4 linked regions of the Homo sapiens genome follow. The protein of the gene in region 2 interacts with the protein of the main gene of each other region in a pairwise test. Each region holds a gene or a part of one and is shown on either strand. Other genes may lie near its edges.

Region 1 (8,059 bases), on a different chromosome or scaffold from region 2:
GTGGCATGCTGTAGTCCCAGCTACTTGGGAAGCTGAGGCAGAATAATCGCTTGGACCTGCAGGGGCAGAGGTTGCAGTGAGCCAACATCACCCCACCGCACTCCAGCCTGGGTGACAAGCGCAAAACTCCGTCTCAAAAAAACAAAAAACAAAAAAAACTTATCAATAATACGCCCACCTAAAAAAGAAAAACAAAAAGCAACTCATAAAATGTAGTCACCAGAAGTGTGTATAGCTGATCTGCGATTTAATACAGTAAAAAAGAAAAAACAATCAGGAATATGTTGTGGGGCTACAATCAGCATTTTAAAATGAGATCAGGTCCTGCTGAATGTTTTCCCCTAATGCAGAGAAATTCTTGCCAAATTTTTACTTACACGTTCATTTGACACTAAAAACACTAACCATAGTTATTCTTGCTAGGCAGCTTTACAAAATATCACTAACTAGCATCTAATATCACTGAAAATCCAGGTGGACAAAATTTTCTTTGAAGATTAAAAATAATTATTTACTAGAAAATTCAAGTCTGCTCTGGACAAGTCTTTCAACAGGTCTGGATCTGGGAAGGAGCTGAAAAACCTAGAATATTTAAGAATCCCTTGGGGGCACTGTCAAACTAAATATGCTTCTGTAGGATGAAGAAGTACTGATAGAATGTGTGCTGAACATAGGACAGAGAGGAGGCTGAAAAAGCCTGAAAGACACTTGTTTAGACTGGGAGCTCCTTGAGTGAAGAGACTGTGTCTTATCTTAGGATTGCTGGTGCCTGGCAAGGAGGAGGTCAACTTGTTAACGCTTGCTAAATTAAGAGAGAAACGTATCTGGACTACAATTCTTACCCGCCCCCCCCCCGCCCCCCCAAAAAAGGAAAACAGATTGTACAAACCAAATATTTAATTTGAATTCACAAAAACAAATGGAATCACTTATTTTTCCCCCAGTGTCTTTTCTAGTAACCTTGCACAACCCACTCGTGAAGTTTAAGTACCTGTAATCATATAAAGGTGCGTCTAATTTAAAAGGATACAAACATTTTAAAACATAAATCTGTTTTATGCCTACAAAATATATGGAAAATGAAATAAAATATAAATAAATTGAGATACAAACATATTTTTAAAATATTTAAATTTACAAGCAAAGTTTAAAATATATAAAAATATGCCGGGCGCGATGGCTCACGCCTGTAATCCCAGCCCTTTGGGAGGCTGAAGCGGGTGGATCACGAGGTCAGGAGTTCAAGACCAGCCAGGCCAAGATGGTGAAACCTCCGTCTCTACAAAAATACAAAAAAAATTAGCCGGGCATGATGGCGGGGTGCCTGTAATCCCAGCTACTCAGGAGGCTGAGGCGGAAGAATCGCTCGAACCCGGGAGGCGGAGGTTGCAGTGAGCTGAGACCGTGCCATTGCACTCCAGCCTGGGCGACAGAGTGAGACTCCGTCTCAAAAAATAAAAATAAAAAAAAAATAAAAAGGAGTAGGCCTCTACTTCCCAAATGTAAACAAGACATACACATTTTTAAATTAACTGTATTTCCCTCATAAAACAGTTACAAAATACAATTATTTTCAAAGCAAATTTCTCAAAGACCCAGCAAGATGTTCACATCTGAAACAAAGTCTTAGGTAGTGAACACTGACTGCAGGCACCAGGGGGCCTCCCAGGAATAACTTGATAGTAAAGGAAAAGGTAAATAAGAGTTCCTGGTAAAACTTTTGCTTCCTATTCAGTCTTAAGACTGCTGGATGGCTTTCACATCTGGAGCAAATACACAGTATTTAGTTACAGAACAGGTACTCACAGAACTTGGGTTTGAGATACCGACACATACTTTGAGAAAAAGGAATTACCCCTCCCCCATTACAATATTCTTTGATGATTTTCCAAATATAAGTACATACTGCTTCACTCTAGCAATTATCTTAAGGTAATTTGAAAGCAAACAGTACATATGCAATCGCTGGACGGCGGCTAACAAAGAGGCCTCTAAATTGTTTAAAAAGGATTAAAGGCTTTTCTACACACTCACAAAACAATTATTGATGACGAAAACTTTAGGGTAGAGGGACTGTTTGGCAGAAGACTGCATTTAACTTTGAATAATATCCTGCAATGAATCAATACATTTAACTCCCGGCTAGTCCACCTCTTCGTTTTCCCCCCTTGCCTTCCCACCAACATAAAACTATTCAATAAGAACACTTGAGCCCGGAAAGTTCAAATGCTGCGTAGACCTACAAATACCTTTCGAATACAAGACAGGCTTTAAAAATAGATTTTCACTAAGTTTGTGCAGAAATTAAGCTCTGCTCAAATCAAATGCAAAAGCCAATCCCTTCAGCAAACCCATCTACATACATCACATTTCTTAGGTGCATCTTCAACCTGATCAAATATCTTGTCTTACAATTTTTTTAGGCCAAGTAACAAACGGTAGATTAATTCCCGCTAATTTTATCCTCTCTTTAAGAAGAATCCATTCTATATAGCATTGTGTAAAAATGCAGAGCAGACGAAGCAGTCCTGTTAAGGACAGGTTTATATATATATACGTAAAATTCACTCCCGGAACGACAATCGGAGGCAGCCAAGGGCAATGCACAAAGAGAACAGAGAAGAACAGTGATTCCACGGACGCACAAAGCCCAGTGGCAGGCATCCTCTCCCCATCCTCGGGTCACCGGAGGCGAGCACCACGGCGCGCGGAGCCCGGCGGCCTTTCCGAAAGGCTGTCTCCCGCAGACCCGCTCCGCACAGCCTTCGGCCGGCGGGCCTGGCCCCCGAGGGTCCGCGGGAACGGCCCCCTCTCCCCCGATCTCCCCTGACCGCGCTCCCAGAGGCCGCTCCCCCGCGCCCAGAGCCTCCTCGCCCCCTCCTCGGTTCGTCCGCCGCGCCGCGCTCCCAGAGACTCGTCTCGGGGCGGGAAAGGGGTCCCCTCGCGTTCCGGCGGCAGACGGGGACGCAGGGGTCGGCGGCGGTGCCCGACCTCCCTCTGTCCCGCGGCCAGGCGCGCACTCACCCTCCAGCAGCCGGGTGATGAGGCTGTCCACGTTCAGCTCCCCGTCCGCCATCTTGTCGGCACAGACTCTCCTTCCCAGCAGCGGGAACAAGGGCTTCTCGGCGGCGGAGGCTGCGGCGACGGCTCGGCGTTCTCTCACCTACAAGTCACGCGGCGTTTCGACCCCGGCTCCAACTCCCCCTTTTCCCGGGCCCTCCCCCCACCCCCTCCCCGCCGGGTAGCGAGAGCGCGCGCACACTCGGAGGCACCCACGGAAAATAAATAAATAAACAAGAGAGGCCCCCTCGAACAGGGCCGCGTCAGACCCAGGCCGCCACCTCCTCCTCCTCGGCACCGCCCAGCTCCGCAAAGCTCACCAGCGCCGCCGACGGCCCCACCCGCAGCGCCACTCACTCCGCACGTCCCTTGCGCGCCGCCGCGTCACGCAGCTCTCCGCGCAGGCGCGCGGTGCGCTCCCCGCCGAGGCTCCCCTCGACGCCTGGGCCGCCGCGCAACCGCACTGGAGCGGCTTCTCCCGCTGCCGTCTTCGCGCAGGTGCGTCGCCCTCTCTCCACGTCCACGGCGCCGAGTCTCGCCACGGTGGCGCAGGCGCCAGGGAGGTTCCCCGGCTTTGCCGCGCGGAGGAAGTCCCGGTTACGCAGAGCGCGCTGGGGCAGGGCTGACCTTCCCCTTTCTCTACTTCACTGGCCTCCTCCAGACGTGGTGGTTGCGCCCTTTCGGCCTCGCTTTCCGTTTTTTGGCTTCATCCCCTAGATCTGCAAACAGTTCCTCGTGTTTCTTCCGTTAGCCGGGAAACGCGAACTGCAGCGTTTGGGACCCGGGTTTGCGCGTGTGGAAAGCAAAAGGGGTTACTCTGCTGGAGTTCGACATTGCAAATAAAGGTCTTTATCCCCGGCGGTTCTACAAAATTAGTTCTGCAGGGATTCTGGTTGAAAGAAGCGTTAAAGTGGGCCTTGTAGGAGTCAGCAATAATCCAATTTTACATGGGTGCAGGTGGCTGCCTGTGTCTAGCGCTTTCACACATCTCATATCTTCATCCACGCCGTGGGTATTTTTTTTCCACGGTGTGTTTCTGTTGCTGCCTCCAGTATATTGCTTAATCATCCTACCTGGTAATTATTTATGCATTTTTCTCCTACTCTCGACTCAGCTCCTAGGGAATAAAAACACATTAACTTATCTTTGTGCCCACAGCACCCACCAAGTATTTCCATCACGTAATACTGCCTCTAGAAAGGCAGGAGGAGAAGCAGTCACGCTAAGGATCTAGGCAAGCCAGATCTTTTGTCCGGTTTTAGGAGGTGGCCAGCCCTTACTTATTCCACAAGTGTTTTTCCAGAAACTCAGACTTGATATTGCCTCAAGTCCAAGGCAGTGTGCTTCCCCCACTCACATATCACTAATAGTAGCTAACATTTGTTCAGATCCCTGTATGTACTCTGCCACTGTTTTAAATGTTACACCCGGGTTACCTCATTTAATCCTTACAACTGCCCTGTGAGGTAGGTACTATTATTATCTCTACTTTGTAGATGGGATTCACCGAGGCACAGACGGTTAAAAAACCTAGCCCAAATAACACAAATAAACAGCAGAGCATGCAGTGCTAGAGTCTGCATTCTTAACAATTGCTATATTCTCCCTCTCCGTGAATGTGGGCTGAGATGCTGAAACAGGCATGTGCTGTGGGGGAGAAAAAGCTTTGTCCAACCAAGTGCTTTCTAATGTCCAGATGACATAGAGCTAGGATTTCCTAATGTCTTTTTTCCCCTATTTTTCTCTCCATTTCAGGGTTGAGTTTGTGCATCGATTGTGAACACAACAGGCAGCAGGCTATAATGGTGGTCCTGGCTGGAGTAGTTTTCACAGACTTCAGTAATCTGTGGAGATGAACGGGCAGTTCTCTGTAGTTTTCACAGATCACTGCCAGTTCGTTTTGAGGCCTTCAGGAGTGAAGACCTGGCTCATCATCACTCTTTGTTGTTTTGTTAAATTTATTTACACCCTACTTTATTCCAGAGGAAAGGATTTAACGTAGTTTACATAAATGTGTACATCAGGGTAAATTAAAAATAAGTACAGAGAAAAATAGGACAAAAGAAAACCGTGAGTGTGAAAGATAAGATTAAGCCAGCAGTTTTGTATGCAAAATGCATGGTGTAAGGTCCTATTGGTTTGCTGGAGGTAGGCCACACATATGACTCTCAGTTTTCTAGCAACCAAGAAAAAGATCAGTTGCAATCGGAGTAGGTGTTTTGGCTAAGCTGGAACTAGGACTTGAATATAGCAGCTTGTAGAGTTATACCACTTGCCCAAATCTCTTCCATGAGCCTCTTTAAGTGTAACAGAATGCCTGGGAGCACGTAAATGCTCCTACTTAGATGCCTACTTAGCCTCTAATTTTCATGGGGCCCATGAATCCCATGAAAAAGAACTTTGAACCCTGTCCACAATTAGAGTTCAGGTATACGCAGACATGTTTAAAGACAAGGGACACCCAAAGGAAAGATTGCACAGAGAGAAAGTGAGCATCCGAGAGAAAATCACCACAAGTGAGGCAGAGGGAGGCCGGTCTCAGCAGAGTTTTGGAGGTCGTGAGAAGAAGAGGTAGGAGATAGGAGAGTGGTTCCGAGTACTTGCCTGCTGATGTTACCTTCTCCACCCCCACCAGGTTTTCCAGTGCCTGGAGTCTTGGGCAGGAATGGGCCACTGTAAGAAAGAGCTTTATCACTAGGGCCTCAGCCAACTTTTCTGTGGGATATCCCTCCAAAATAATTAAGAGTTCAGAATGCTTCAGATTTTGAAGTGAAACTGGTACATATATTAAGTGTTACTTAATAACCCGATAGTTTCTAGGGCAGCTCACCATAATCCCAAGTATTAGCCACCACCCTCACCCCCTTCAGAGTAAAATGTGTTTCCTGAAGGAAGTTGGGAAAATGAAGAAAAAAAATACAAAAATCACCTATAATCTTACCAGTCATAGATGGCAGTTTTCCTGTCTTATTTCTGAATAATGGTTGTTAAACATTTGCCAGCACACCATAAGGCTTAGGGAGGCATCTGGGTCATGCATGTTAATATCCTTGGGTAATTCCAGAAATCTCTATGAAGGGAAACTCCTGTTATTTATCTAGACTTCCTGATTGCAAGGGGTTTGGGCATCATGATTTAGGGGTCTTAATAAAATTATTATTTTATTTTTACTAATAGATAATGTCTGTGCCTATCAGATAAAGGCAAACCAGTGCTCAGAGGAACCCAACCATCTCTGAATTGAGACCAGAGAGCTGTCTCTATGGATAGTCCTTAGAGAAGGCATTTCGGAACACAGTAAACAGCAGCCTGGTGACTCCGGTTAGTAAACGCAGCAAAGACTTTCATAGGGATGTTTTTCTTATATGCCTGTCAGTATTAGCCAGTAGCCAATCTGGTGTGAAAGTGAGTAAGTTTAGGTAGCAAAATGTGGAGGGGGTGATATATAGTTTTTTGCTGCTCTGGCTTAATCCAAGATGACTTTTAAATGAATGAATCAACATTCATTGGGCTGTCCTTCCATAAATATGATTCTTCTCAATCAAGTGTTTAATAAGTCTTAAGTAGTGGTAAGTTGAAATTTTACTAGTTGTATCTGGAGGTCAGCCATTCTTTATATCGCATGCATTAAGCTTTTATAGTCAGCTCAATTCAAGAAAATTGGAAAACCAGACAAGGACATATATGCATCATTAGGAGGCCACCTCTCTCAATACAGAGCCAGGCCTAGGTGGTACAGCCAGGCAGGGCCAAGATTTGTTCTTAAGATTTAGTTTTGGTTTCATTTCATTATACATATGAGAATAGCCAAAATTATAGCTAAGCCATAAGGCATGTCCTCAGCCAGTTTAGTCCCCCAGAATTATAAGGCAAATATAAATAAATGCCTCCTTCCCTGCCCTTGGTCAGTAACCTCCCCGGTGGCCCCAACCAACTCTCTCTTCTCTCTCTCTCAGTTTGTCTTAAGCTAACTCCATAGTACATCCGTATCTTTCAAGATAAAGTGATTGAAAAATAAATGTCTAGTAATTGAAGGAGTTAACTGGCTATTTAGAACTGTTAACTATAAGGCAATTAAAGCTAGGTGAACAGCTACCACAAGTAATGACTATTTAATTGTTGAAGAGTTTATCTGTGGCCTTTTTTTCTTGTAATTAGATTACAGGGCCAGTTGCCTTTGTTACAATAAAAGCAAGTCATCTACACAGGTAAGAATGTTTCTCTTTTATTGCTCCCCCCTCCCCCCATCCTGCTCACTGAAATGGATACCAGGAAATAACTGTTTGATGAGGGAAAGTATACAATATGTGAATATTTGTTTCAAATGAAACAGTGTACTGTAAATGTTTTGTTTCTTGTTGCTCTGTTTCTCCTGTAGTATATCCAAATCACATATAATTCACCTTTTCAGTTGGAGGTTTACCGCTAAATGGCTTAATTTTTTTTCTTTTTTTGAGACAGAGCCTCACTCAGGCTGGAATACAGTGGCTCATTCACAGCTAACTGCAGCTTTGACATCTCAGGCTCAAGCAATCCTTCTGCCTCAGCCTCCGTAGTAGCTGAGACCATAGGCATGTGCCACCATGCCCGGCTATTTTTTTTTATTTTTAGTAGAGACAGGGTCTCGCTGTGTCAGGCTGGTCTCGAACTCCTGGGCTCAAGCAATCCTCCCACCTCGGCCTCCCAAAGTGCTGGGATTACAGGCATGAGCCACCGCACCTGGCCCTAACTGGTTTTTATGTCTCTGTTTCAATTGGGTTTTGGTAGATAAGACAAGGAAAGCATTACTTTTTTTATGTAGTTATAAAATGAGTAGCTTCTCATAATATATAAGACCACATTAAAATTAATAGCATATGTCTGTTAAAACTAAAGCCAAACTATTTGTGAGCTGTGAAATATATTCATCAGAGTTACATCCAACACCAATAGGTCTTTTATATAGGAAACACTGGTTAAATAGAATATTTATTAATTATTATTTAAATCTTGATTTAAA
Region 2 (8,575 bases):
TACAGACCTAGGATTGCATGGGGGAATATGACAAGTCAAGACCAGTTACATTGTTGCTTAATTCATCGATAAGAGGCCAAGTTCTCCATTCTCCCCCAGCTCTGCCACTCTGGGAAGAGCCCACTAGCCAGCCTCGGACTGCCAAAGATTGTTGACTCTAACTCTGTCTTAGGAGACGTCTGGTGGAATGCACAGTCCTGGGGTGCCATCTGTGTCTGCACCCCATCAGGCTTCCATTGAACATGAACAATTCTATAATTCTGACCATCATTGTTGTCCCAAAAGACTTGCCCATTAGCATGGTAAGAAATGCAGAACTCAATTTTCTGCTCAGTTGGAATGACAGGGGGTAAGTCAATGGCAAATGAGAAGGTATCACTATCTGTGCCACCATACACATTTTTCATATAGACACAGTCTACGTCAGTGTAGTTTTTCCAAGAATCGAAAGTGATACGGATCTGAACTTTCTTCTCAAAACTCACATTTTTGACTTTAACAGTCCCTGTCACTGTTCGCTCTTGCAACGAGCAGTTCTCCAGACAGACAAAGTTCTTCTGAAAGTGGCTCCGGAAACTTAAGTAATCGGTTGAAGGCTGAGGGAAATCTAAAATCAAGTTTTTCTCCTCGTGGTGTTTTAAGGCAGAGGAGATATCATTAAGGTCCAAGAGATCAAACTGCAGATCCCACGCTGGTTCTTCTGGGAGGTCGGAGAAGACATGGATCGCAGTGAGAGAGAGGCCCTTGGAGTCAGCAAACACAACGCGCTTCTTGGCTTGGTTGTGTGAGCACTTCCAGTCATTCTGTGATTTGGCTTTGTGTTTTATATTGAGACATGATTTCAGGGGCTTTAATTTATTCACAAAATGTCGTCGTTGAAATTCATCGTACGGGCCCAGGAAACTCTTCACAGGTGGTGAATGTGCCAAGCAAAGCCTCATGGCCACATCCACGGGCATGACCGAACTTGTCAAAGGACGTGGATCTAAAACCTGGATCATTCTGGAATGCAAAAAGAAGAGGGATTATCACCTGGATCGGAAATGCTCTTCCCCAGTGCCAAATACATATGTACTATTTTTGTGCTGACTGAATTATAGCCAGTGCACTAGATATCAGGCAGGTGCTATCATATGTAGTAAAAGAGAACAGTATTAAGTGATCAGATCTTCTATGTCTACCTCTACCCTTGGCCGGCTAAAGGCTATTAATTGCTTAAAACACTTAGAGGGTGATGGGGGTCTCAGTTTCCCCATCTGAGAAATAAAAGGGTTCGATTTGATTATCTCCAAGGCAGCCTTGAGAACTGTGTGCTCTGTTCTGGACCAGTGGTCCTCAAACCTGTCTGGTCACTATGTCTAGGGAATTCATTTTCTTTCTTTCTTGTCTTTCCTCCTTTCCTCCTTCCCTCCTTCCTTCCTTTCTTCCTCTCTCTCTCTCTTTCTCTTTCTTCTTTCTTTCCAATTCCTGGGACTCAGAACTACTGAGGCAGAACTTCTGGGGCTAGGGCCAAGGGATGGGTATGTTCTTAAAGCTTCCCAGGTGATTCTAATGACCAGACAGGTTCAGGAGCCACAGTTCCAGACCCTCTGCTCCCTCTGGCTACGTTGGCTTATTTTGCTGCTAAATTGATTGACACTTCTCTGGTAAGGTAATTCACTTGAAAAAAAAAAAATAACATGCAACAGTTTTGAGAGTGAGAAGGCTAGAGAAGAAGTCAAAGAATCATCTTTGCACTTTGATTATCATGCTCTTATTTTTCACAAATAACCACTGAAATACAAGCCAACAATTCATATGCACTTAAAAACTATATAATTGATAATTCACCTAAAGAGATGCCCATGACAAGTCCACATTTAAGTGGAAAAACTGATTACCTGAAAGTTGGAGTGTTTTAAAATATACATTTTATATATACAAACTTATAAATATTGAAAAACTCTATAGGAAATACACCTTTCCTAATAATTTAATAATTATTATTTCTGGGTGATAGGATTATAGATTATCTATTTTCGTTTTTGTTCTTTTTTGGCATTTTCTAATAGACATTTATAAGTAGAAAGACAATAAAACCATTTAAAGTTTTAAACATGACTATGCTCAGCAATATTAAACCAAGAAGCATCTATAAAGAAGACTTTTCTCTGACCTTTAGCCCTCATCATATATTTCCAAGCTTATGGTATTAAGATTTTTTTCCCTATCTTAGCCTTACAAGTAAGAGGTGTGTGTATACTGTACACGACATTTCTCAGTCTGGCTTTAGTAACTCTCCTCACAGCAGCTCTAAACATGTATGCAAGTGGTCATTATCACAAAAGTGTGTAATAACACTCGCAGAATTTACTGTGTTAGCTCTGGGGTTTTTCTGGGAGATCTGCAAACTTAGAACAAACAAATGAAAGCTAAAGCTATATTTGTGGGTCTAATAATAGTTAATAGGCAGGATTTTTAGAGAAGTCTTCTGCTAAGCTATGTCTGGAGAAGCTATTTAAAGTAGTTTTATGGGAGGTTTTTTTTGGTTTTTTTGTTTTTTTTTTTTTACTTTTTGCATTTATAGAAAGACAGTTTTAGTTTGGGTGATTTCCTTGGAACTTTAAGTCCTGGACAAGAGTTAAAAGTAATCGTTTGCTCAAACTCTTGAGATTTTGCTATGGCAAACTGTGATAAGAAGGACGAATGAATGCAAACGTCGTCCTGTAATTTTTTTCCTCCAAGCTAAACCACCTAACCAGCAATGTCAGAGTGCTGTTCTCACCACTTCAGCTGCCCGAGTCTTTGGGACATTTGTGCAGGACCAAAAGAACAGCCGCATCCATGAGAAAATCCTAACTCAAGCTGATTCACGTTAAGATAATTTCTGCTTTAAGATGCTGATTACTAAAATAGGCTCTGCTTAAGAAATAGAGCCAAATTTCTACACCTCCAAGGCCTCTCGGTTGCCAGATTCAACTACGCAGTCAGTCCACTTGTCCTCCCCCTGGGGTGTCCATTTCCAGAGATGATAGAACTGAAACGCCCCCCAACTTCCCCACAGCTGCGCGTTCCCCTGTGTTCCTAGCGCGCAGAGTTGCAGCGAACCTACCTGGTGCAGCTCATTAGGCAGAGAGGCGGCGGACCCTAAAAGCCAGCACCCGCTGCCTGCACAAATTCGAACCACAGCTCCAGGCCTTGCCCCCGCGGCGGTCGCTGGGAGAGACTGAGGGCCCGGCGCCTAGAGGCCGCTTATCTGCTCCCAAGCACGTGACCCGATCCCTGGGACCAATCGCCGGGCCTCGAGCCCCAGGGCGCGACCAACCAGCGCCCAGCTGGGGCGCCAGCCCTCGCCCCGGCAACGTGATCGCCCCGGGGCGAGACGTGCAGAGAGCTATCTGGGCATCGCGGGGAGGTTCTGGGACTCCGCGGCCAGCTGGAACCAGCCGCGTAACGGGAACCCTGGGCTAGGGGCCGGGCAGGCACGTACCGCATGCAGCGGGCGCCGGCCAAGAGAGAGCGCAGCCAGCCTCGCCCAGGCGGGGCGCCAGTGCCTCAGGCTTGGGGCGGCTGTTACTTGGGAATAGCTTTGTGGGTCACTGCGGGTGAATCTGCACACAGAAGATGTGGCTCAAACCGAATGTGTATCGCATTTGAAATGTTTATATCGTTCATTACCCGGTGTATCCGCATTTCTCCCTCACCTTAGCCTGCGCGATCCCAAACTGGCTGCATGCTTTTCGATTAGTATGAGTTCACAGATGCACCACACAGTAGACAGCTGCCGGGAATTACCAACTTATCTAACAAATGTTGTTAGGAAAGCATACGAGCCCCATAAAACACCAAGGTGGCATTTAATTAAAAGACACTTCGTATTTCTGTCTATTCTTCAATTTTCTCCCCTGCGGGGAACACTAAAGCCGGAAGTGAAATGACCCTTTTCACACATACAGCCGGTCAAGAGGCAGCAGTCAACCCAAACCCCTTACTCAATTCTGACGTCCTTTGGCAGTGGTGTGGAAATCAAAATGTTAAAATAAAATTTAAAAAATCACGCCGTATGTTTCATGGGCCTTCTGAGCCACTCACTTTCGCTGAAGTTTCATTATTTTGATTAGTTTGAAGAATTTTTAGACCATCATTTACAACTGTAAAATTAAATGTCTAAGTCAAGTCTAAATTATTTTTATAAAACCCACATCCTAGTTTTGCTCCCCTAATTGAGCTATCCATTAGTCAATTAAAATATACAAAAATTCCTATGTCTTTTAAACAACTGTCAAACAGTGGAATTGTTAAAATTATTAGAGTGAAGAAAAAAATCACACTGAATATCACTGGGAAAGGGACTTCATGCCTGGGTTTTATTTTTGAAATGAAATATCTAACTAATGGCAGGTCTTCTAGCCCCTTTAGCTCAACCAAAACTAGCTGGAAGGTCTTTGGATTGACACTTACTAGCTACACGAATCTAGGCAAGTTCTAACCTCAGTTTCCTCATGTGTAAAACAGAGATAGTAACGTTCTGAAGATGAAGTAAGATGGTGCCAATGAACAGACTCAGCACGATGCCCAGTGCCTGTGTTCCACCCGGGCTAGTTCCCAAGTTTCTACTTGATCTCTCAGCTAGAGTTTTTACTCTATCACCTCAAGGCGCCTGGTGCCTGAGCTAAAATATTGAGAATAGCTGCTGCTTGTTGAGCCTTTACTCTGTGCCAAACACTATGTGCTATCAATTCAATCCTCACAACAACCCTATGTGATATGTCCAATTATTAATCCCATTTTAGAGAAAAGAAAACGGAGACACTGAATGGTCAGGAAATCTGCCCAGTGGATCACTTGAGGCCAGGAGTTCAAGACCAGCCTGGCCAACATGGTGAAACCCTATCTCTACTAAAAATACAAAAATTAGCCGGGCATGGTGGTGCACACCTGTACTCTCAGCTACTCTGGAGGCTGAGGCAGGAGAATCGCTTGAACCCGGGAGGCGGAGGTTGCAGTGAGCTGAGATTGCACCACTGCACTCCAGCCTGGGCAACAGAGCGAGACTCTATCTCGAAAACAAAAAACAAAAAAAAAACCTGCCCAGGTTCTCACAGGTAGAGCAGGGATTAGAGCCTGGCTGATACCAGAGCAATAACCGCTGCACCATATTGTCTTATTTTAATGACCCATCAATGGTTAGAATTATGGAGGTAGGAGGTGATAGGCATCAAACTCTTTATTTCACAGATGAGGAACTGAAAGCTTAGACAGGTCAAGCTGCTTGCCAGGGGCTGGCTAGGTCTGAGCCAAAACTAGAACCCTGGGTATTCTTTTCCTCTACCCATGATTATATGTTGAGCTAAATAGTAAATATTACCAGTTAAAACTATGGAGAAACATGAATAACAATTTATGGTGATCGCATTTTGAGGGAAAGGTATCCATGCATAGAAAACAGAATGTGCTCTACAGAAATGTGAACAGTTCATTTTGGAATGGTGAGATTATGAGTGATTAAAAATGTCTTCGTTGTTTTGCTGCTCTGTTGTTTTTCTTAATTTTTCTACAATGAACATACACGACCTAATTAAGAAATAATTTTTCAAGGGCGTTAAAACTCTGGGATTCAACTAACACATATAGCGTACTGCTAGGTGCCAAGAACCGTGGTGGAAATTTTCACATGCTTGTGCCATTTACTCACACCACCCTTTCAGCCTGTTCCATTCATACAGCTTTCTCTCCTGCCCCCTGGTGTTGACTAATGCCATAGAAGTCACTCTCCCTTTCAGCTCCTTCAAATGGAAGATTCAGGGAGACCATGCTTTCTCCTAAAAGGACTCAACACTCACTCAATAAACCTCTAAATTGGATGATCCAGGCTTTTCACTTCTGTCTCCTTCCCAGCTTTTGCTCCCCTTCATTATTGGATGAGAGAAACTAGGATGGAATCAGTGTTCTTAGTTGTAGGTTGCACCAATGAAGACAGAGTAGAAAGGAATCGTGGGGAGTTGTACTATTATTCGTAGGATTTCTCCCACTGTGGTTTGGCAGCATCTAAACATTGCTTGGTCCTACCCATCTTAACAATCAATCTATCAGCAGGAAATTATTGAGCTATGCAGTAGTTCCAGCTCCATGCCAGGGGTTACAAAGTCTGAGCAGTCATAATCCTTTGACCTTGAGGAGGTTACAATCATTATTACAGAAAAACAAATTCATAGAATACCCAGCAGACATTTTAAGAAGCTACTAAGCAAGGAGCTGATAATTGTGGGGCTTACACAAGTGGGTCTCTTACAGCATTCACTCAACACGTTGCCTGAGAGCTGCCTTTGGAAAAACACCCTGGGGGGTTGCCAAGTTGCCAACTCATTTTCTGCAAGCTTGTCTTTTTTCAGTGCCTAATCAAGAAAGTACTTGAGAATTCAGCCTCATAGTTATTAATATAAAAATGTCAGTACTTTAACCACAGTTAGTGGTAACTGAGAGAAACCTCGTAAGTGATCTTGAAGATCACTTACGGAGTTTCAGTGAAAGAGTCAGGGAAGTTGCGAACTGGTTTTTTTTTTTTTTAATTATTATTAAAAGGAGCAGGTTTTGCATTTTGGAGAACAAAAAAGGTGCCAATTCATTTGTCTCAGTTAATAGTAAGCGCTCTTGTACACTATTTTCTTCTTCCTTCTTTAGCTACATTCAACAGGAACTCCAATATTAAGTAAAAGGATACAACCTGAAAAACATATACTGCTTACTTTGGGCTCGGCACTGTTTTAAGCACTTAGAAATATTAACTCATGTAATCTTTATAAGAATCCGGTGAGGTAGAAACCCATTTCACAGATGAGGAACGTGAAGACATCGAAGGTGCCAATTGTCCAAGATCACACAGCTAGTAGGTGACAGGATCAGGTTTCAAGCCCCTCTAGAATCCACGCTCCTAGTATGTGAGTTGCTCTGAAAAAGACAAGCACCACACTGGTAGCTACCAAGACCAAAAAGCAGCTCCGAAGGCCAAAGAGATCCCGAAAGGAGAAGGCTCGCTGTGGAATATCTGTGGAAGCTTCAAGGAGGTAGCGGGAATTGGGAAGGCCAGGAAAATGGGAAGAACTTAAATATGATGTGCTATCATCTTTAGGGCATTTAGATGACTAGAATACAACTTTGTGGCTCAGCAAATAAGAGAGCAAATAAGATCACCATTGAAACGGTGCCAGCCACCCACCGTTCCACTCAAAGGGCATATTCCCAGAGGCAAGTGGGGAAGTGAAAGGACTAACAAATCTGCTTGTTGCCAAGTAGACTATGCTACCAGCCATTCCGTTTGCACTAAAGGGATTTTCAAGTATAATTTTCACTACTGGAAATTTTTTAGTTTTTACCTCAAACCCCATTTGTAAAATAGTCCAGTAAGAGCAGACAATGGTCTAGGTGTGGTGGAAAAGCATAAGTGTTAGCAAAATAAGGGGTTAAAGAAAGTGCAGGCCTGGGTGAGGTGGCTCACACCTGTAATCCCAGCACTTGGGAGGCCAACGTGGGTGGATCATTTGAGGTCAGCAGTTCAAGACCAGCCTGGCCAACATAGTCAAACCCCTTCTCTACTAAAAAATAAAAAAATTAGCTGGGAGTGGTGCTGGGCACCTGTAATCCCAGCTACTCGGGAGGCTGAGGCATGAGAATCACTTGAACCCAGGAGGCGGAGGTTGCAGTGAACCGAGATCGCGCCACTGCACTCCAGCCTGGGTGACAGAGTGAGACTCCCTCTCAAAAAAAAAAAAAAAGAAAAGAAAAGAAAGTGCAGGATGCCGCCTGAAACATGTAGGTATCTCAGGTGAGGTGAGGAAAAGGAGAGGGGAGGGCGGATGAAAAAAAAGAATGATATAACTGTATCAGGTTGACTTAGTGGCAAATGGATCATGTGAATATTACACACATTTGCTACACATGCTTCAGGACTTTAGAGAAAGGAGAAGCCTCTGGGGGTCAGGATGGCCAAAGAGGACCAGGACTTATTGAGTAACTACAAGGAGAAGAATTTGGCTAAAGGTGAGGATTCTGGCTGGGGAGCATGAGGAGGAGAGGTCAAAGGAGAGAGGTTTTTTTTTCTAGGCAGACTCTCACCTGTTGCCTAGTCTGGAGTACAGCAGCACTATCTCAAACCTCCGCCTCCCAGATTCAAGTGATTCTCCTGCCTCAGCTTCCCAAGTAGCTGAGATGACAGGCATGCGCCATGACGCCCGGCTAATTTTTGTATTTTTAGTAGAGACGGGGTTTCACCGTGTTGGCCAGACTGGTCTCCAACTCCTGGCCTCAAGTGATCTGTCCACATTGGCCTCCCAAAGTGCTAGGATTATATAGGCTTGAGCCACTGTGCCAGGCCAAGAGAGAGAATCTTAAGTGTAAAAATTTTTTTAAATCTGCTGGATTATCATGAACAAAATTAGAGATCTAAGTACTACAAAATGAAATAAGCAGAGAATAAAATAACAATCTGACTGTGGGGGAGGTACCATCCTTTTGTGTCGATAGTTCCATCAAGTTGCTGCAGTTTCTCTGTATTCATCGGAAGATTAGGGTGAATAAACAAGTAAGTTAGAAATAATCC
Region 3 (7,687 bases), on a different chromosome or scaffold from region 2:
TCACTGCATTAGCTTATTTTTTCCTCATTTTTAGTTCTTTCAAGAATCATTAATTCCATGCTTGAAAATGTCTGAATGGCACTAATGAGGATAAGTTTTTTAATCTTTTGAATTCTTAATGTGAACTAACAGGAAAAAAATCTCAGAGCTAACAAATTAGAGTTGGTAAAGGGCCGATTTATAAGTGTCTCACAATTTATGGGTGTAAATCAAAATGTTAACTAGTACAGTCATAAGCTGTTTGTACAATCCTTAGGCTTTAACTTCTTTGGAATTGGCAAGCTAGGCATTTGACATGTATTTATATAACTGTACGGTTGTAGTTATTAATGATCTTGTCATTATTGTTGATAATGAAAAAAGATCTTCACTATAATTTCTTCGTATAATTCTTATAATGAAACAAGTAAATACTATTAACTAGAAAAAATCTAGTCTGCAGTTAGCCCACACACATCCAAACTTATCTCTGCCAGCAGCAAAAGAAAGCTTGAAAACCTTTGCCAAAATCAGAAGTTTCCCATTTAGATTACATAAGTTTCTGTTGAATTGAAATATATTTAGATAACATTTAAACCATTGATCTTTTGGTATTAACTCTCAGATGTTTCATAACTTTCTGTCTTTTTAGTATTCAGGGATATTATGTAAAGTTTTTCCTGCACTGAATCTCTGTGCTTGAGCCTACTGAAATGATCCCCCTAAGCCATGCTGCCTGCCTTTTGTGTTTAATGTTTTTTTACACTGACTTATCTCCTTCGTGTGTTCACCTCTCCCCCAGAGGAAGACAACAGAACAGTATAATTTACAGTTTGTACAGGTTAAAAAAAAAAAAAAAGGTTGTAAGGTGGGGGGGTGATATTTTGTTTTAAAATATTTGGGTAAGGAAAATTTTGTCTTTAATATTAATTCTGTAATGCTTGACCAGGCATGGTGGCTCAAACCTGTAATCCCAGCACTTTGGGAGACCGAGGCGGGCGGATCGCATGAGGCCAGGAGTTCGAGACCAGCCTGGCCAACATGGTGAAACCCCGTATCTACTAGAGATACAAAAAATTACCCAGGCGTGGTGGTGCATGCCTGTAGTTCCCGCTACTCCAGAGGCTGAGGCAGAATTGCTTGAACCCGGAAAGTGGAGGTTGCAGTTAGCTGAGACCACACCACTGCACTCCATCCAGCCTGGGCAACAGAGCAAGACTCAGTCTCAAAAAAAAAAAAAAAAAAAAAAAACATAAAAATAAAAATATAATCCTTGACTGTTACCCAGTATTTTTACATTATTTATATTAATATCATTTGATCTTCACAGAGAATTCTATGGAGTACTGTAATATTATCCTCAGAGGGAAACTGAGGCATCTATGGATAGACATGCAGTGTGGCTTAGTGATTAAAGCTCTGCATGCTGGAAGCTGACACCTGGGTTCCAATCCTGACGCAGCCCTCGCCTCTCTCCGACCTTGTGCACGTTGCCTAACCTATCTGTGTTTTGGTTTCCTTATCTGAAAAATGAGAATAGTCTCTACCTCATAGGGTGTTGTGAGAATCAAATGAGTCAAAACATGCTAAGTGCTTTAAATAGTGCCTGACACAGAGTAAATGCCCAGTAAATATTAATTCAATATTTTTAAAATGTAGAAGTGTGTTACGGCTAGAAGGGGATTTTGCTGAAAGTGGAATCTAAACCTTGCAATTTTACATCCTGTTCTGTTCTATCACTTGGTAGAGAGTAACAATTACATCCCGATTTTAGTTTACACATGTTAACTAGCAGTTTAGCATTCATCAATAAACTATAGATACTTAAAAGCTTTAGCTATCAGAAGATCAGTCAAATTATAGGTAAATACTGAATACATTTAAAGAAAATGTAGAGGGTTTTTATTATCTTTAGTAACTCAACTAGGTTAAAATGAAGAAATTTGAATTTAAACAATACAGTAGTTTCCCCTTATTTGTGGTTTCAGTTACCCACATGGTACAGTATGATAAAATATTTTGAGAGACCACTTTCATGTACGTTTTATCACAGCATATTGTTATATTGTTCTATTTTATCATCAGTTATTGTTGCTAATGTCTTACTACACCTAATTTATAAATTAAAGTTTATCACAGGTATGATAGTATATATAGGGCTTGGTACTATCTGAAGTTGCAGGCATCCGTGGGAGTCTTGGAACGTATCCCCCTTGGGTAAAGGGAGGCTCTTGCTAACTTATTTATGTCCTTACTTATTGTGCAGAGGACTTGAAACAGTAAACACTGATGTCTGTATGGTGATTATAGTTCACAATTATTTTCATTTCTATTATCGTAATTGATCCATACACAAACTCATGTGAGATAGGAGGGCAAGTATTAATATCCCTAATTCACAGATGTAAGAAAAGTTGCAAGAATTTTGGGTGACTTTCTTAAGGGAAGTAAGTGACCAAGTTAAAACTGAAAGCAGAACCCAAATATGTGCATATTGATTCAAAACACAAAGTTGATTTAAAAATTAGCACGCAAAACATAAATCTAAAATATTCTTACTATTCAGCAAATTTTTATTGAGTAGCTACTATATACCAGGCATTGTTTTAGGTGCTAGAAATATAAAAAAGGAGTAAAATAAAGTCCCTGTCCTTGTAGAGTTTGTATTTTTTGTTTCTTTTGTAATTGCAGCAAATTGAAAATCCCTAGAAAATGGGGTTTACTGCTTAATTGGCTTCTACTTAACCGAGACTATATCTCTAATTATTTTCTTTGATTCATAAGGTACTTTAAGGATTTTTTTTCTTAGTGCCTCAGGGTTACTAAAAAGATCAACTGTAATGGCTTTTGATATAAATGATAAAAAAACTGATTCAAGTGTCCCATTTCAAATGAATAATTTGTTTTTTAACTGTTTTTCATTCATCAAATGCAGAATTTACCAAAACTGAATTATCTTAGATTTCTAGTTATTTATATATTAACTTTTTGTTTATTCAGAATCATTTTTCTGTTTGTTGGAATATTTCTAAGAGCCTTGGAAAATCTCGAGTAAAATTTTAAATGAATTTGTATAGTGTTCTGCCTCTTTCCAAAGGTATTTCTCAAAATTGGAATTGTTTTATTATTGAAGTTGAATGACTTCAGGGAACTCTAAAATGCAAGATGGAAGCTTCTGTTTGGTTTTTTCTTTCCCTTTGGTAAGGTCTTTTGCTTCCCATCCCCTTGACCCACCTTTGTGCTGTCTGTTGTCCAGTCTGCTCTCCTGATCCCTAAAGATGTTTCTTATCTAGGCTACCATTTATGTGGGTAAAAGACAAGGTAGAAAATACTCTTCTGTATCTTGTATCAAGGGTTAATCTAATATCTTCATCACTTTGTTTTGAGATATTTTGGAATGTTATCAACAATTATTATAGATGGAGCATGTATGTCTTAGGTTTGGTGTTAACTGTTTAACATGCATTATCTTATTCAATCCTCACAGCAGTTATAAAATGTAGGTGTTTTAGAGGTAAGCATATTATAGGTCAGGAGAGTTCAAAGAGTTAAACTACCAAAAGGGGATCTGAACCCAATTTCTGAATCTAGTGTTAATGATCTTACTATCCCAAACTCCTACTCCTGAACATTCTTAATCAATGATCAACAGCTTATCACTTGGCAGCTTTGAGCTCAACCCTGGTAACCAAGTCATACTATACTGAACATAATGAAGCAATAGAAGCAAAAAAAAAAAATTGATATTCTGGTTAGCCTTTGAAAATTTCGATAGCTTGATATATAAATCTCAGAAAAAGACACTCAGAAAAATGAGAAAAGGAATATGAATAGAGAACTTTATACACAGCCCAAATACTGAATAAACACAAAGTTTTAAAGGTCAAACTTAATGAAGAAATGGAGGTTGTTAAAATTACGATGCTATTTTTAATTTATGTATTTCTAGCAAAGAGAAGAAACACAGCTTGTGGGAGTATAAAATAAAGTCTTTATAAAAGAAGGGTTGGCAGAATGTGTTGGAAATGTTGTATATCTTTATAACTTTCTAGGCCCAGCATGGTGGCTCATGCATATAATGCCAAAACTTTGGGAGGCCAAGGAGGGAGGACCACTTGAGCCCAAGAGTTTGAGACCAGCCTGGGCAACATAGTGGTACCGTATCTGTACAAAAAAATTTAAAAATTAGCCAGGTGTGGAGGCATGCACCTGGAGTCCCAGCTACTGAGGCTGGAGTATCTATTGAGCATAGGAGGTCGAGGCTGCGGTGAGCCATGTTAATGCCACTGCACTCCAGCCTGGGCTACAGAGTGAGATCTTAGATCTTTTCTCAAATAAATAAAGTACAAGCAATAAATAACTTTCTACATACTGTATAGCAAATAACTAAAAAGGCAAGCAGGTACATAAAGATAGACGTTTGTTATACTTTTTATACTGCCAAAAGTTGGAAGTAACTTAATTGCAGAGTAGGAAATTTTTAAATAGGTTGTATATATAGTAGGATATTTTGCAACTATTAAAAATCATGTGGACTAGTATTACATGGGAAAAAAAGCAGATTATAAACAGCATATATAGTATATTTTATAAAACTACATGTTAAAAATGTACTTTACACATAAAGAACAAAAATGTATGGGAGGCCGTTTGTTTTAGACTGACCTGCACTAGGCACCAGCAGACCAGACAGAATTAGAATGGAGGCCCTTGTGCTGAGTGCCACATAATCAAACTGAACTTTGAATTTGAACTGAAATGAGCCAGTTTTCTAAAAAAAAAAAAAAAAAAGAGAGAGATTTCAGTCAACCTGAGTTAGTGAAATAAGACAGCCCTCTCTGTTTTAACCTGTAAAGAAAGTTTTCAACTTTAAAACAACCAATCTACTTTTTGTCCCTTATTTCTGCTTTCTTTAAACCTTTTCTGCCTAGAAGGCTAACCTCCTCTGCTTAGCTCATTAGAAGACCCATTTTATAGAATGAGCTGTTGCCCATTCCTAGAATCACAAATAAAAGTCAATTCGAACCTTAAATTTGTGCTAATTTTTTCTTTTGTTAACACCAACACTGGCTATTTCTTTGTGATGGGTAAAAGATAGTTTTTACCTCTTATTTCTATATTTTTCAAATTGTATGAGTAAACATTTTTTAAGCTTTTGTGATTTGAAAAAAACTTTCTTGAAGGTGAACTAAAGAAACAACTTTAAGACCTGTTACTAACCATGGATCTCTAATGATTGGAACAAAGATAGAAAACCATGACTCTAGAATAGAAAACTCTCTCTTCAACCCATGAAATAAATGCTTTGGACAGCCGAAGACTAGATTCCTCAGATGGTGGAGCAGAGTCTTATTTAAATCTTTTTCCTTGCTGAATGACTTACAAATAATACTGGGTATAAAAGGAGAAAATGGGAACATGAATTGAGCTTAAGGAATCAAATTTTAATGAATTTTTTCTAATTCAGGAAACATTTATCAAAGCCAGGATCTGAGGATAAAAGGCAGGAAATAACGGAGGGAGTTCAAACATCTTTGAATTAAATTACTTTAATAAATAATGTATATATACGATGAAGGCACAGAATCATAATAGCAAACACGCCATGCTTTCAATGTACCAAGCCCTGTTCTAAGTACTATGCACCGATTAACTTACTCTCTAGAGTAAGCCTTGGGGTAGAGACTGTTACCAACATATTAATAGCATGGAGGTAAACAGCTAGAACTCTGGAGCTGGCTTCCTGAGTTAGAATCTCGAATCCACCAATTACTAGCTGTATGATCATGGGCAAGCTGCATATACTCTTCACTGTTTTCTATAAAAATGTGGACAATCCTAGATCCATGTAGAATTGTGCTGAAGATTGTAAATCATTTAGAACAGCACATAGTGGTGTTAATAATGTTTTAAAAGCCCCGGAATATTAAAGCTAAGGAAATTAAAGTACAGAGATTACTTGTAATTTACCCCAAGTCACAGTGAGTGGGTGGAAGAGCCAGATCATGCTCTTAGTGGTTATCATAAATTGTGGAGGAAGACCCAAAGCAAAGCATCTTGGGAGGAGACTGGTGAGCTGTCTTGCTGGATGATAAAAACTTATCAAGATAAAGAATGGTATGGTAAGGGAGGAGCTCAGCACAGGAATGAGGCATGAAATAGAATGGTGTACATGGGGCAGTGTGGGTAGTTAGGTATGGTTGGGACTTTGAGTGAGTGGGAAGGTTCATAATGATAATTAAGGCTGGAGAGATGGGCAGGAGCCAGGCATGGAGGAACTTGTACTAAATAATACCTGTTTTACCTTGTGAATGGTAAGGATATAGGTAGAGTAGAACTGAAGGCAGGGAGATCAGTGAGCAAGCTATTGCAATAGTATTAGAGATTTGGGGAGCCTAACCCAGGATTACTAGAGATAGGATTGGAAAAGGGGAGATTTGAGGAATATCATAGGAGGTGACATTTACAAAGTTGATTCTGATTTGGGAAGTTAGTGGTGTCAATAATAGAGAATACAATGAAAAATGCTTTTTTGGTGAAGAATGCTGAGTTTAGAAAAATTATGGCAGGCAGTTGGAAATTTGATGAATCTGAAGTTAGGGTGAAAAATCAGGACTAAAGATAAAGATCAGGGAGTTAAATCATGACAACTAGCACATCTGTCCCTGCTTCTGGTAGATATGGGTACAAGACCAGAGATATTAAGTGATTTAGAATAAGGTCACAGAGTTAAGTACCACAGTCATATTCAATACAATTAACCCAAACCATGTTGTCTTTGGATTTTGTCAATGTTGTCAAAATTTTGACAACTTTTGAAATTTTGTCGATTTCAAAAATGGAAAATACATAATATGCCAGGCACTTGCTGGGCAATACAGATACCTGCAGTAATGGAGTGAGCACCAGCATCTTCCCTGATGGCGTGTGCAGTGAGGTGACTCGTCTGTAGTGTCCTCAAGGTCACGTAGAGAGCATACAGTAAATACTTGTTGACTCTTTCAAACTTAAGTTAATGATACAGTCAGGACTGATAGCCATTTTGTTGTCTTTCTTGAAAGTTTACGTGGAAGGCAGACCTTGTGTATGCTTTTCAAAGGGGCTCATTTAGCGCACTTGGCGCTTAAGAATTTGAGATCAGTGTGATGGTCCTAATCTTTTTTTAAAAGTATTGGAAGTTTGAACTCACCTGATGGGGTTGGTTTTTTTTTTTTTTTTTTTTTTTTCCAAAAAAATAATCATTCAAAATAATCGGTTAACATTTTCAATAAGAGCATTACATACAAGGAGTTAGGGAACAAAGAGTTTTAAAATCTGGCTCTTTTTATCTCTACTTAGGGCGTGCATCTTCTCTTCTTACCCCAACATATACTGACTTTTTAGGACCTCCTTTAGGGAGATCTCAATATCCCGAATTTTTCTGTGTGGAGAGGGGAAGGAATATGTCTTTTTTTGCTTTGGTCAGAGTGGATACATTTTATAGTTTGTTTTTTCAAAGACGGGTCTTCTGAGTCACTTCTTTCACTGCTGCCGTAAAGAAACTGTATAAAGGTGATTGAGCAGTGAAGGCATGGATAAAAGGGGAAATATTCAGCAGTTCTGAACGTGCATGTCATCAAATATAAAGGAGTGAGAACTTGATGTATAAGAAAAAATGGAAGTTAAAAAAAATAAAAATCCAAGAATGGGCTGCTTGTTGCAGTAGTGA
Region 4 (7,687 bases), on a different chromosome or scaffold from region 2:
GGAACTACCATCAAATGCTAGTTGTATTTGCAAGAATTCCAAACATCAGGATGAATGGTGAAAAAAGATCTATTACAATGCTTTAAGGACGTCTGGTGTATGGATATTTGAAAAGAGTCTGGATGATTGAATGACTCTATTTTAAGCCTGAATGTTTAGACTTTTATTGGGTTGCTAAGGCTGCTTTAACAAAGTGCCACAGACAGTGTGGCTTAAACAATAGAAGCTTATTATTTCACAGTTCTGGAGGCTGAAAGTCTGAGATCAAGGTGTCCACAGGGTTGACTCCTTCTGAGGGCTGAGTGGCAGCATCTGTTTGAAGCCATCTTCTCCCTGTATCTTCACATTGTCTTCCCTCTGTGTCTGTGTTGAAACCCCCCTCTTATAAGGACACTAGTCATTTTGGGTCAGTGCTTACTCTGATGACCTCAGTTTAACTTGATCACCTCTGTAGAGACCCTGTCTCCAAATACAGTCACATTCTGAGTTCCTAAGCGTTAGGACTTTAACATAGGAGTTTGGGGAGGGGGACACAAGTCAACATAATAGGCCTTTATAATTAATGATATGGCATTTCATAATATGGAAAATAAAAGAGCATTTTGTCAAAAATTATTTGCTTTCATATGGCTCTAAACTACACAGTACATCCCCAAAATGTAAGAAATGAACTGGACTTACAGAAATTAACTTGTGCTCTATATACATAGTGTATGACTCATAAAAAACTATAATAAAACTATGGTTTAATAAAGAAGCTAATTAGTATCACTTTCTAAATTGGAATTTGTCTTTGAGTAGTTATTCAGCCTTAACTGGAGCCTGTTATAAGCACCCTTTTGGGGTAGAAGTTTGGCATTAATAACTTAACACTGGATGCTAGAGGACAAATTTTCAGCAGAAGGAGCTGTATGTGCTACTGAAGCCTGGAGCTTACTAGAGGTTGATTTTAATGTTTCTCTTGCTTTCCCACTAATGAGATCTAAATTATAGGACGGATAGACTTTTTTTCCCTTTACTCATTATTTAAGAGCCAGTTCATATTTTAATTTCTCATTGAATTGCCCGTAAAATATTAAATAAGATAAATGCAACACAATTATCCAACTTAGGAAATGTGCTTTTTTTTCTTTCCTTTTAAATTCTTAGCTGGGTTTTGTTAAGAGCTTCAGCAAAATCGATTTTCTCTATTTTTTGAAATGGTGCTCCGTTTGTATGGCTAGGAAGAGGGCACTGCAGTTCAACAGTTGGAGTCTTTAGGTGTGATAAATAAACAAAAGCTGGTTCCATTATTCCTGTGGTTTTCCTCATCTTTTTTTCTTTCGATGGACACAAAATAATGCTGATTTTCACCTTTAGGAAAAGGTTATTCTGCCATTTCTCATGGCCATTAGTGATGGAAGCTGTAATGTGAAGTCCATTGAATGGACTTGTCTCCCAATACCTTTTGTCTTTTAGACACCCACTTCTCCTGTCGATACCCTGTGGTGATTTTTACAAAGTGCTTGGATGGTCATTCTGTCTGATGTGCCAGTGAGGCTTCCTTTGACTGACAGTTGAGCGTCTGATTCATACGCTTCAGTAGCTGTTGGACCACAGGCCCAAGCCTGATGGGTGAAACAAATACTGTAGTATTATGATATGGTTACCTGGAACCACAAATCCAGATTCACTCAAATGAGTTAAATTGATTTTGATTTGCAGTCTAAGAAAATAAGGTTCCAGAATGTCAGCCATCTATTCTTTCCCCTGGTCTTTAGCTAAGTTGTAATACTACTAGGGTAGATTTTATTTATGTATAATCTGATTATAGCACAGCAGAAATAGTCAAAACCCTAGTTAATAATTTTTTTTCTACAAAAGTACATTCTTATGCATAGGACTATATTAAATATTTGTCGTGGCTCAGAAGTAGATTTAGTTTTGACCAGTTAGAAGGTACTGTGCATTAAACACATGGATATACATTGTCTCTCATAACAAATAATTTCTCACTCTAGGAATTATTTGTAGTCTTGACACTATTTTTTGGACAAAGATAAGAACTCACCTTAATTTGTAGATATGTCAGACTGAGGAAGCCCATTTTTTCTCATCTCCATATTTTTTACTGATATTTAAAAAAGATATTGGGCTCTATATATTAAGCTTCTCTTACATGCATATGGAGACCTTGGACTGGTGGTCCAAGGTGGTGGTTCTGGAATCTGCTGCTTACACAATCTAGTTAATTTCTAAACAGACCAAAAATCAAAGAACCTACAGAATTATAGGCCTAACTCCCAAGCCTCTCTATAAGTATCTCTGAGATGGATCCTGGTAATAGATGTTTTTATAAAAGTACCTCATGTGACTTGAATGCATAGCCAGGTTTGAAAACTTCTGTCCTGAGCTGACTGAGTGTCAATACCCTGTTGGTTTAGTTGGCGTCTCTTTACCTCCAAATAGTCTATAGTGGAGCTGCCAGAAATCTCTTGAGTTCATGATTGATAGTGGATTATTTATGAAACAAGTCTCTGGAAGTTTTATGATATAACTTATAATTGTAAGCTATAACTTCTATTCCATTATATCTTTGAATTTTGGTATGCCTTGCATTAAAACTACTCTTACAGAGAATTTTTATTCTCTAATCTCATATGTCAACAGGCTTCTTTTCACCCTAAAAATCCTGATGTTAAAAATTGTTTAAAATAACATTGATACCAAAAGAAGACTAAAACTGAGATGAGATGAGTAAAAATGAATTTTTAATGGTATCAAATTATCCTCTTTTGAATGGATGAGTAAAAGTTTAATTACTTTTTAGAAAGCATATCATGTATCTTGTTACCCCCAGTGAATCCTATAACTAGAAATATATCACCTACTTTTGGAAAACAAACTGAAATAGGATGCACATGAAGGGCACTTTAGCTGTCTGATTAAGCAGAATCCATTGATGTGTTTGTTTCCAACAGGCCCAGTCTTTGTCTCTGCATCCCATACAATGATTCAGTACAAATCACTTTATAACCTTACTTTTCTATCTTTCAATATAGTGTTTGTTTTCAGAGTTTATCTTTAGTTATCTGTCTCTAGGTTTAGAACATCTTGTTTTAAAGTAGCAGAAATTAGTTCATACTCATTTCTTAAATATGGACTCTGACTTCCACCATGTCTGGATGTATATTTTAAGGGCTTATTTCCATCAGAAATGTTATGTGTGAGATATATGTGTTAAGCTACTGGCTTTGGGCCTGTTTATCTTTGACTTGTTCTGAGTTTCCCTATCACCTTAAAAACATTTGAAGGCCAGGGCTGAAGGATATGATAGAATAACACCTCTTTTAGCAACAACATGTGACTCTATAGACTGACTCTGATTTGGGATATGCTGACTCTGATTTCTTATATTGCAGGCTCAAATGTCCTAATTTACCCTTTGTGTATCTCTATGAACTATTCTTGAGCTTTTATGCAATCCTGTGTGAAAAATCAGCCAGCCATTTTATTTTGGCATTTACCGACTAGCGAAATACTAACTAGTACCCACTCAAAGAGTGCAATATTCAAGAAAATGCTGAGTGGTATTTGGATTTTAGCTTGCCTGTCATGAAATTCTCTTTAATATTTTACCAGTCCTCTTTAAAATTTTGCCAGTTGAAAAAAACAAACAAACAAATAAAAATTACTGTCTTATAATAGTTTCTATTTCTTGGTTATGTAACGGAAGTGTCCACTTCCCTCTTTTCCAGCTTAGGAGCTTTAGTGTGCTCAGTTGAACCCCAAAGTATACATACGTGAGCCCAGCACTATCACCTCACTAGGCATCCAGCAGGTCCCTGGGTAAGGGATCTTTGAAAGATCTGGAAAGAGGGATGGGACATCTAGTTAGAGGCAGGTCTCACTCAACAGCCAGAGGGAAGGGGCAATCAGCAAGTGGGTGTGACATTTCCCCCGAATACTCAGCTATCCAGGTCCTGATGAAGCTCGGCTCTTGGGCACCCTGCAAGTGTCCTTGCTCAAGGTCTTTCTCTCAGTACACTGGGTCCAGTGGAATATCTAAGAATTATCTGGATCCAGGGATAAGATGAAGGCCTTGGATTTCATGCCTCTCTTTCCATCACCATTAAGTCTTTTGCCATTTCTAACTTTTCTTTTATCATTTTTTTCCCATAATAATCCTCAATAAGGATTTCTGCAAGGAAATTCCTAATAACCCTTTAGACAAGAACACAAGTAGAAAAAAAAAAAAAGTTGTTCTTCTCCTGCAGGGGAAGCAGGGCTCAGGCTTTAGACAGATAGTGCCAGATCTTATGAGATAATTTTCACTGATTATGGGTCATGACCACATTAGAGGATTAGTTAATTGGCTTCTCCTGTTAACATCAACAATGACAACCACCACCAAAAGGAAAAAAGCAAAAAACAAAAAAAGCTAGCTTTCATACAAAAAAATAGGGTATCTTCTACTCTGTAGCATTCAAATGAAGAATATAGGAAACAATGAAGAATTAACTGAATAATCTTTACAATGCAATGCAAAGTAAATTACAAAAATAAGTAAATCACTATAGCTACACATGAAATCCGCTTGCACTTACTGTGCATCCACGGTTTCAGTCCAATTCAGGTACATTAATTGTATTTATTCCTTACAAGATTTTTATGAGTTATTTTTAGACCCATTCTAAAGATGAGTACACCAACAGGTTAGAGTTGATAAATAACTTGGCCTAACATCATACAATTGTTACTAAATGTTATACGAAATCTTTTTTTTTTTTAATTTTTTTTTTTTTTTCAGACAGGTTCTTGCCCCATCGCCCAGGCTGGAGTGCAGTGGTGTGATCTTGGCTCATTGCAACCTCTGTCTCCTGGGTTCAAGCAATTCTTAGGCCTCAGCCTTTCAAGGTAGCTGGGATTACAGGTGTGTGCCACCACGCCCAGCTAATTTTTGTAATTTTACTAGAGACGAGGTTTCTGCCATGTTGGCTGGGCTGGTCTGGAACTTCTGGCCTCAAGCAATCCCCGCCTCAGCCATCCAAAGTGCCAGACTACAGGCGTGAGCCACTGCGCCAGCTTCTTTTTTGGTTTTTACATTTTTCCTTTTGGCTGTTGTTGTCAACATTGTTAACATGAGAAGCCAATTGCCCAGTTCCCTAATGAAGATCCACCACTGTCTTTCTAAAACTTCAGTTCTGCTTACCCTACAGGAGAGAATAAACTTTTTTTTTTTTTAAGAGATGGAGTCTCACTCTGTCACTCAGGCTGAAGTGCAGTGGTGCAGTCTCGGCTCACTGCAACCTCCGCCTCCCGGGTTCAAGCAATTCTTCTGCCTCAGCCTCCCCGGTAGCTGGGATTACAGGTGTCCACCACCACGCCTGGCTAATTTTTGTATTTTTAGTAGAATTGGCCAGGCTTGTCTAGAACTCCTGACTTCAGGTGACCCGCCTGCCTTGGCCTCCCAAAGTCCTGGGATTACAGGTGTGAACCACTGCATCCGGCCAGATAAGCGTGTTTTATGTTTTTTCTCCTTGGGTTCTTGTCTAAAGGGTTATTAAAATTTTTCTGAGTTTTTAACTTTTTCATTTCATTATTTTTTTCTATAATAAACCTCAATGATAATTTCCAAAAGGAAACTATATTGCTATTTCTCCTTCTTACCTTGCAGCATTAGATGAAACCTATAGAACACTGCTAGGTACTAATGGAATTAATGTTGATTCTGATCTTATTAAAAGAAGTCTGTTGTTTTTTAGCTTCTGTTCTTTAGCATATGTTAAAAGTCTCATACTATTTGAAATATTTGCATAGACTTTTAAACCGGAATGCCTGCTGAAATTTGTTTTTCAGAATTTATTTATATAATTACAGGAATTTTCACCTCTAATTTGTTAGCATTTGAAGTCTATTGATGGATTTTTATCATGTGGAACCATATATGCATTCATGGAATAAGTACAACTTGGTAGACTTATTTTAATATATTGCTTGATTTGGTTTGCAAATGTCCATTTCCTGGCGTTCTAGTTAATTGAAATACTTGCTTTCCCCAAAGCAGCAACACCAGTACTTTTTCTTTCAATAATAACATTGGTGTTCATATTCTAAAATATCTAGCTTTTCCTGTGCCAGACTTAAAGGTTAGTTATATTTTAATACTACATGTTTTATGCAGCTCCTTAAACCTCAAATCAGAACAACACTAGTGATAGTTGTCTCCATATGTTCTCATTAGAATTCTACCAAATATCTGGCTGGGTAGCTGCCCTCGTCAGGTGGAACATGTAACCATCAAACTGAAGCATGAATTGGGGATTACAGCTGTAATGAATTTCCAGACTGAATGGGATATTGTACAGAATTCCTCAGGCTGTAACCGCTACCCAGAGCCCATGACTCCAGACACTATGATTAAACTATATAGGGAAGAAGGCTTGGCCTACATCTGGATGCCAACACCAGATATGAGCACCGAAGGTAAGGATCAGAACTGTTCTGCCTCCTTGCTGTATTTCAGAGAAACCCTTGCTGTCTGTCTGTCTATCTATAATTTAATATCTTAAAAATGAATGGTAGAAATGGAATAAATATAAGATTTTAGATTTAATATATATAATACATATGTTTTGACACTGTGGCTAAGATTCTGTTTAATGTGGCTTCTTTGTTTATTCATTCAACACATATTTATTGTGTATGTACTGGGTATGCGGCATTATGCTAGTAGCTAGGAACACAGCAGTAAAGAAAGACAGGCACAACTTCTGCCCCCACGGAGCGCATTGTCCTATAGGGATGGCAAATGTTAATCAAATGACTAAAAATAGAAGTTTAAAACTATGATGAATTTTTTGTTAGAAAATATATAGATATTGCTATGAGATTATGTACAGGTAATCAGGCCAAGAAGTGGGGTCAAAGAGGGTTTTCTTGGAAAGTAGTGTTTGGGCTAAGATCTGAGGGTGGGCTGGAGGAAGAGTGAGTGGAGGGAGTGACCCAGGCAGAAGCAGCAGCTTAGAAGAATCCTTGTGGCAGGAGAGAGCACAGAGTGTTGCAAAAACTGAAAGACCAATGTGGCTTGGATCAGAGAACGAGGAAAGATGATCCTGCAGGATTTGAGCGACAAAAAGGACTTTAGACGCTATCCTATAGCAGGAAGAAGCAGTTGTACAGTAAGACGAGTTCGACACTAATTACAGCACAGAGGGGAATGGGTAAGAGAGGAGTGAGGACCGTGCTGGAGGAGGGTTATGCATGGGAAGAGCACATTCTGGGGAGCGACAAAGGGAGGCTGCGTGAATGCCATGGCACTTGAGGTGGGCATGGCTTTGATAGGTAGATGTGGAGGGAGAAAGGGCATGCTAGGGGGAAGCAGCAGCACAGGCTATGGCACAGAAGCATGGAATTTTAGAGGAATGATAGGGATTTTAGCCTGGTTGTAGAATAGGGTACTTGTCGAAGAGGAGTAGAGATAACTACAGTCGGCAGAGGAGAGAACCAAGTTACACCGATAGTATCAAGCAGCTGTCAGCAGGGGGCAGCAGAGAGCTTCAGAAATGGGAGAGGCTAAGGAGTTTGATGACCTCCTCTGCTGGGGAAAGGACAGTGATATCCAGCTCAGAGACGTTTCTATCTTTAGCCCTCTTCCCCCAAATGTATATTATGTACAAAACACTCTCCTAAGCAATTTACAAGAATT

Evidence for each region.
Region 1: the proteins of PPP1R3C (region 2) and PPP1CB interact in binary tests that used the Homo sapiens proteins (3 or more experiments, as listed by UniProt).
Region 3: the proteins of PPP1R3C (region 2) and LONRF1 interact in binary tests that used the Homo sapiens proteins (3 or more experiments, as listed by UniProt).
Region 4: the proteins of PPP1R3C (region 2) and EPM2A interact in binary tests that used the Homo sapiens proteins (3 or more experiments, as listed by UniProt).

Annotation. Positions count from the first base shown.
Region 1 is NC_000002.12:28,747,142-28,755,200, reverse strand, and holds the start of PPP1CB (serine/threonine-protein phosphatase PP1-beta catalytic subunit), read right to left. Parts: upstream 3,372-8,059; 5' UTR 3,077-3,371; coding exon 3,025-3,076; intron 1-3,024. UniProt on the Homo sapiens protein: Protein phosphatase that associates with over 200 regulatory proteins to form highly specific holoenzymes which dephosphorylate hundreds of biological targets.
Region 2 is NC_000010.11:91,629,865-91,638,439, forward strand, and holds the start of PPP1R3C (protein phosphatase 1 regulatory subunit 3C), read right to left. Parts: upstream 3,208-8,575; 5' UTR 3,106-3,207; coding exon 3,092-3,105; intron 1,003-3,091; coding exon 63-1,002; 3' UTR 1-62.
Region 3 is NC_000008.11:12,744,840-12,752,526, reverse strand, and holds part of LONRF1 (LON peptidase N-terminal domain and RING finger protein 1), read left to right. Parts: intron 1-7,687.
Region 4 is NC_000006.12:145,634,023-145,641,709, reverse strand, and holds part of EPM2A (laforin), read left to right. Parts: intron 1-6,223; coding exon 6,224-6,465; coding exon of another isoform or gene 6,466-6,551; exon of another isoform or gene 6,552-6,630; intron 6,631-7,687. UniProt on the Homo sapiens protein: Plays an important role in preventing glycogen hyperphosphorylation and the formation of insoluble aggregates, via its activity as glycogen phosphatase, and by promoting the ubiquitination of proteins involved in glycogen metabolism via its interaction with the E3 ubiquitin ligase NHLRC1/malin.